Homo sapiens: one gene and its partner. The protein of the gene in region 1 interacts with the protein of each later gene in a biochemical or structural test. Each region holds a gene or a part of one and is shown in the gene's direction. Other genes may lie near its edges.

What was found.
Region 2: the proteins of FBXL3 (region 1) and CRY2 form a complex in vitro, tested with the Homo sapiens proteins (2 studies listed by BioGRID, with this or other methods).

Annotation. Positions count from the first base shown.
Region 1 is NC_000013.11:77,009,841-77,013,659, reverse strand, and holds part of FBXL3 (F-box/LRR-repeat protein 3), read left to right. Parts: intron 1-3,819. UniProt on the Homo sapiens protein: Substrate-recognition component of the SCF(FBXL3) E3 ubiquitin ligase complex involved in circadian rhythm function. Plays a key role in the maintenance of both the speed and the robustness of the circadian clock oscillation.
Region 2 is NC_000011.10:45,880,793-45,883,746, forward strand, and holds the end of CRY2 (cryptochrome-2), read left to right. Parts: intron 1-121; 3' UTR 122-2,452; downstream 2,453-2,954. UniProt on the Homo sapiens protein: Transcriptional repressor which forms a core component of the circadian clock.

The DNA of each region.
Region 1 (3,819 bases):
AGGTAGGGGCTTGGGAAGTGCTGATTGGTCAGTTTGGAGATGGAATTATAAGGGGTCAGAGTTAGGTTTTCTTAATGTCTTCTGTTCCTAGGTGCCATGGCAGAACCAGTTGGCCCAGATTACCAGTCTGGATGGTGTCAGCTGATCCATCTAGTGCAGGGTTTGCAAAATATCTCAAGCACTGTTCTTAGGTTTTACAATAATCATGTTATTGCCAGGAGCAATTTGGGGAGGTTCAGACTCTTGGAGCCAGAGGCTTCATGACCCCCACATTGTAATTTCTAATCTTGTAGCTAGTTTGGAAGTCCTGCAAAGGCAGACTGGACCCCGGCAAGAAGGAGGGGTCTTTTTGTGAAACGGCGGTTACCAGTTTTGTTTCAGAGTCAAACCGTGAACCGAATTCCTTCCCAAAGTTAATTCGGCCTATGCCCAGGAATGAACCAGGGCAGCTTAAGGGTTAGAAGCAAGATAGGGTCGGTTAGGTCTGATTTCTTTCACGGTCATAATTTTGCAAAGTTGGTTTCATAATGACTTTTGGACTAGTTCTTCAGGAAGGGAAGGGAAGAGAAAGAATACTTTTTAATACAGCTGGGCACGTTGGCTCACGTCTGTTAATCCCAGCACTTTGGGAGGCCGAGGCAGGCAGATCACGAGGTCAAGAGATCCAGACCATCCTGGCCAACATGGTGAAAGCCCGTCTCTACTAAAAATACAAAAATTAGCTGGGCATGGTGGTGCACGCCTGTAGTCCCAGCTACTTGGGAGGCTGAGGCAGGAAAATCGTTTGAATCCGGGAGGCGGAGGTTGCAGTGAGCCGAGGTCGCACCACTGTGCTCCAGCCTGGCAACAGAGCGAGACTCTGTCTCAAAAAAAAGAAAGAACACTTGTAATACTTTCTATTTGAAGAGCATAACCACATAAGATTTCAGTTGAAATTTCATATTTTCATATTTTCTATCTATCTTTTGCATATTTGGACAGTTTCTCTAAGTTGAAATTAGGGACTGTATTCTACTTTCCTCACTGAACATTTAATCAATTTTCTTTCATTTCCTATAGTTGTTATAATTGTCTGTAACTGGACCTCTAGGTTAGTTTGCCTGTTGCTTCCTTAATATTAATTATCAGGTTGAACTAATGAACATTTAGTTACTTAGTTCCCTATAAAGCCAACATTGCATTATAGTTCTAAAGTTGGACACTTGTTTTTACCTTTTTTGCTGTGATTAAAAAAAAAATTGGCTTATAGCAGTTTGCTTGTATTAATTTCTTCCTTAGGGTACATTCTTAAGAAGTGGAAGTCCTAGGACAAAGGTCTTTGTGCTTTTTGCCATATTTTTTTTTTCCAAATGAGTTGTATGAATTTATAGTACCACCACTAATCACCAATTTTTTAACAGCTTTATTGGCATATAATTCACAATTCTCATTTAAAATGTACAATTTATTGATTTTTAGTGTATTGGTAGAGTAGTGCATGCATCACCACAATTTTAGAATGCTTTTATTATTCTAAAAAGAAACCACATACCTCTTAGCTGTTGCCCCCAAAACCTCCATCCCAGCCATCCCTCAACAACCACTAATCTATTTTCTGTCTCTGTAGATTTGCCTGTTCTGGACATTTCATATAAATGGAAATCTACCTTTTGACTTATGAATAATGCTGCTGTGCACATTTATGTACAAATTTTGTGCGGACATATGGTTTAATTTCTCTTAGGTACATACCTAGTGATCATACTCCCCATTTGAGGTAATGCCAGGCTGTTTTCCAAAGCTGCTGTGTACCACTTTACATAGCCACTAGCAGTGTCTTCTAACACTTATTTGTCTTTTTGATTATAGCCATGCTAGGGGGTGTAAACTCATTGTGGTTTTGATTTACATTTTCTTGTTGACTAATGATGTTGAGTATCTTTTTTTTTTTTTTTTTTGAGACAGGGTCTCACTCTGTCGCCCAGGCTGGAGTGGAGTGGCGTGATCCTGGCTTACTGCAGTCTGGACCTCCTGGGCTTAAACGATCTTCTCACCTCAGCCTCCCAAGTAGCTGGGACCACAGGCATACGCCATTATGCCCGGCTAATACTTTGTAATTTTTGTAGAGATGGGGTTTTGCCTGGTTGCCTAGGCTAGTCTCGAACTCATGGGCTCAAGTGTTCCTCCCACCTCAGCTTCCCAAAGTGCTGGGATTATAGGCGAGAGCCACCGTGCCTGACCTTGACTGTCTTTTCATGGTGCTTCTTGGCCATTTGTATATCTTCTTTGGAGAAATGTCTATTCAGATCCTTTGCCTATTTTTTTTTTTTTTTTTTGGAGACAAAGTCTCCTTCTTGTTGCCCAGGCTGGAGAGTGCAGTGGCATTGATCTCGGCTCACTGCAACCTCCGCCTCCCGGGTTCAGGTGATTCTCCTGCCTCAGCCTCCTGAGTAGCTGGGATTACAGGTGCCCGCCACCACATCCGGCTAATTTTTGTATTTTTAGTAGAGATGGGGTTTCACCGTGTTGGCCAGGCTGGTCGCGAACTTCTGACCTCAGGCAATCCGTCCGCTTTGGCCTCCCAAAGTGCTGGGATTACAGGTGTAAGCCACTGCACCCAGCCCCTTTGCCTATTTTCTAATTTGGGTTATTTGTCTTAATTTATTGAGTCGTAATAGTGCCCTAGTTTTATTTTACTTTTGTCACTGTGTTATGTTTTTAAATACTTGGAACTATGTTCTTACTGGTACATAACTGACAGCTATACACAAAGCAGCTTAAACCAACACCCATTTATTTGCTCCACTGTTCTGTACATTAGAGCTGTAGTTAGGGCTCAAGTGGCTTCTCTGCTTAAAATCTTAAAAGGCTGAGAGGAAAATGTCAGGAAGGCTGGGCTCTTACCTGGAGGCTCTGCAGAAGAATCCACCTCCACGCTCATTCAAGTTATTGGCTGAATTTAGTTCCTTGTGATTGTTGGACTGACATCCAGTTTCCTTATTGGCTGTCAGCAGGAGGCTGTTAGGGGGTCTTTCTGCTCTTAGAGGCTGGTTGTGATTTTTCTTTTTTGGCCCCCTCTAGCTTAGAGCCAGCAATAACACATTGAGTCCCCTTTGCATTTTGAATCTCTCTGACTTCCTCTTCTGCAATCAGCCAGAGGAAACTGCTTTAAAAGGGGCTCATATGATTAGACTAGGACCATCCAGATAATCTTTTATATGCTCAGCTGTACCATATATCATAATCATGGGCATGATATCTTATGGAATTCACAGATGCTAGGCATTAGGGTGTGGGATCTTGGAGGCCATTTTGAGAATTACGCCTGCCACAACTGCTTTTGTAGTTATTAAATGATACTCCACAGTTTCTTTCATTTGAATGGTTAGCTACCATTTCCCATGTCTGTGTGTTTTTTTTTAATTATTATTATACTTTAAGTTCTGGAGTACATGTGCAGAACATGCAGGTTTGTTACATAGATATACACGTGCCACGGTGGTTTGCTGCACCCATCAACCTGTCATCTACATTAGGTATTTCTCCTAATGCTATTCCTCCCCTAGCCCCCCAACTCCCGACAGGCACCAGCGTGTGAGGTTCCCCTCCCGGTGTCCATGTGTTCTCATTGTTCAACTCTCGCTTATGAGTGAGAACATGCGGTGTCTGGTTTTCTGTTCTTGTGTTAGTTTGCTGAGAATGATGGTTTCCAGCTTCATCCATGTCCCTGCAAAGGACATGAACTCATCCCTTTTTATGGCTGCATAGTATTCCATGGTGCATATGTGCCATGTTTTCTTTCTTTAGTCTATCATTGATGGGCATTTGGGTTGGTTCCAA
Region 2 (2,954 bases), on another chromosome or scaffold:
CTTTCAGCTCTTCTCAGGTCCCGCTCTGAATGTCCCCAGAGAAGCAGCCAGAGGAGCTTGTGTCCCTGGGCAACTGAGCAGCCTCCTGAATGCTCCTTTTGCACTTGTTTTTCTCTTCCAGCTGCAGAGCCCTTGCTCCGTGAGCAAAGCCTGGGTGCCCAAGCAGCCACCGCAGCAGCAGAGTACAACCTGCAGAGAAGCTGATCACCGGGCAGAGATAGAGCGAGCATGTGTGTGTGTGTGCGCGTGTGCAGAGGAGGGAGTGGTGTGCCTGTTTGTGTGTGCATGCATCTGTTGACACTCATGATTCTGAATGTTGCCTGGGCTGGGGGAGTACCTGTAGCACGCCAGTGCTGTTTCCCGGCCTCCAGACACAAGGCTCGAGGTTATGGCAGTGACTTTCAGCTGAGACCTGTTCCTGCAAGCCAGCTGCCTTGTCTGAACAGAACGTAGTGGTAGGACCCTAGCTGGGATTCTGGCATCTGCCTCCCTAGACCTCCTTCCCTCCCTCCTCACGTCAGGCTGTGGAGCAGGAGCACAGCAGTTCTGGCTGTTGTCCAAAGCATGGGATTCTGGAGGCAGCCAGAGCCCTGCTGAGTTCCTGCTTTCTGACCTGGAGGCTGAGCAGGCCGGAGTGGATGGATGCTGTCCAGACGTAGCCACCTGGCCTCTGTTTCTTATTTTAAAATTCTCTGCTACTGGGCTCAGTCCCAGGCCCTTCCTTGGGCTTCTGGGACTGAGCATGAGGCCATAGACAGATCTAAAAAGTTTCCACCACCCTACAGAAGTACACACAGATACCTGACTGGTGTGGGGTATGCCTGGTACTGTAATAGGAGCCTAAGACAGCACACCTACCTTTTCAGGATTTAGAACCTAAAATTAGAAAGAGAATCCCAGCTGTCATTGTTCCTTCCCCAGAAGCTAAGAGCCAGCCTCAGAGCCTACCCAGGAGCTGTGAAGGGGCAAGGGTCAAACTGACTCACTCTACCAGGAGGAGACCAGGTTGCAGTGGCGTAAGGCCCCCTGGTTTCTCTGGCCACACTCCAAGGCACCACAGTGCTGCCAGTGAGGACAGCTGACACCCAGCCAGGGAAACCATTCTAGTCTTTATTCTGTTGGCTTCCAGGGCCTGTCCTGGACTTGTCAGCATCCAGACTGCCATGTCAGCTATCCCAGTAGCTGAGCTCCAAGGACTCAGGCAGAGGGACTCAGGGATGGGGACTGCCAGGGGCAGTTGGCAAAAGTCCAAGTAGAGATTACACCCAGAACACCATTCCTTCCAGGAGCAGTAGGTGGGAGGTTTGACCCAGAGAAGCCAATCCTTGCATTCCAGGAGTGGCCTGTGCCTCCCACCTCTTCCTTCCCACTGCCAAAGGCCTGTGTTGAGAAAGATGTCATGCAAAAGGACGACGGTGGCCAACTAAAGCAAGTCTTCCTTCCACCCTGTGGCCTGCACTTGAGCCACAAAGTGTGTGTGTGTGTGTGCGTGTGTGGTACGTGTGTGTGTGTGTGGCTATGAGGCTGATTCCTGTTTGGATTTTTGTCCTCACGTGTATCATTAAGCTGGCCTTTGGGCCTTTTCCTTTCTACCTCCCCTGTGACCTTTCCTAGCCTCAGATCTGTTAATTCTTTTGGCCCCAGCCCTGTCCCTCACTGTCCTCTGTCCTTGGACCAGAACCCTGGGGTCAGACCCATCTCCTGTAGCTGTCCATCACACTGACAGGCTTCTTCCTGAGATATCCTCAGGTTTTCTCAGCCAGAGAGCTGCCTTTAGAGTCCAACTGTTGTACGTATGTCACCTTCACTAGAAATGTCCCATCATCGTGGGAGGGGAGCAGGGCACAGGGGATGGTGTGCATTCAGAGCATTGGGTTGGGGGCTTCCCTGTTCCCTCAGCCCCAGTCGAGAGGAAAGAGAATCGGGCCACTGCCAGAAAGAGAGTCAAGCAAACCTGGAAGGGCAAATCTGAGAGTGGGAAGGCCAAAGGCCGAGGCCCAGATTTAGTATTCACTAGCAGCGCCTTCGGGTAGCAGGATGATTCCTTTTCCTGCCTGTCTGCTGCTGGCTCTCTTCCCTAAGGTACAGGTTGGCAGGACCACCTCCGCCTACTTCTCCACCATCCCTAGCATGTCAGCCCGTTCCCAGATCAACCTGCCAGTGGAGTCAGGCAGTGCACTCCTGGAGCCAAGAGGGAAGGGCAGGGTAGAGAGGGTATGTCCAGTAGCCTGGAGCTCCATGGTGGCTTCATGCCTCCCTTCTCCCAGCTCAGGTGGCCCTGAGGGCTCCCTCGGAACAGTGCCTCAAATCCTGACCCAAGGGCCAGCATGGGGAAGAGATGGTTGCAGGCAAAATGCACTTTATAGAGATTTTCTATTGCTGGGAAGGTGTGTTTCTCCCACAATTTGTTTGTGAATATTCACTTGTTTTATAAATGTCTGACCTGTCTTGAGTAAGTTTGTGCTGTCGTCAATCTTGTGGGAGGCCTGGGAACCAGGGTTTTGGTAAGCCTGAGCCTGAATGAAGCTGTCGGCCACCCCATCTTGGTTCTGTGGGAGTCAGGAGCCTCCTATTCCTCCTTAGGAAGGGGGAGCAGCCAGAGCAGACTGGAGCAGCTTGGTCAAGAGTTGGTCCAGAGCTTGGTCAAGAGTTGGGGGTCAATTGGCCAAAATAGTACAGAGCACTCTGGCCCAGAGTGAGGGTCCTAAGTGCCATCCTGCAGTGCCACCCAGCCTTGCAGCCCACTTAAACCCCCTCCCAGGCTGGGGGTCAGTCAGTGCAGGGCCTGCTCCACGCCCTCAATCCATCCTTTAATTCAATGCAGCCACTTAAGCTGCAGCCTGTGGTGAGGAGGGGATGCAGGCTCTCTGGCTGTGACTAGGTGGTTGAGATCTGCCCACAGCCAAGCCTAGGGCGCCTGGATGCTGGCTTTGTCTCCTGGCCAGAGAATGGCC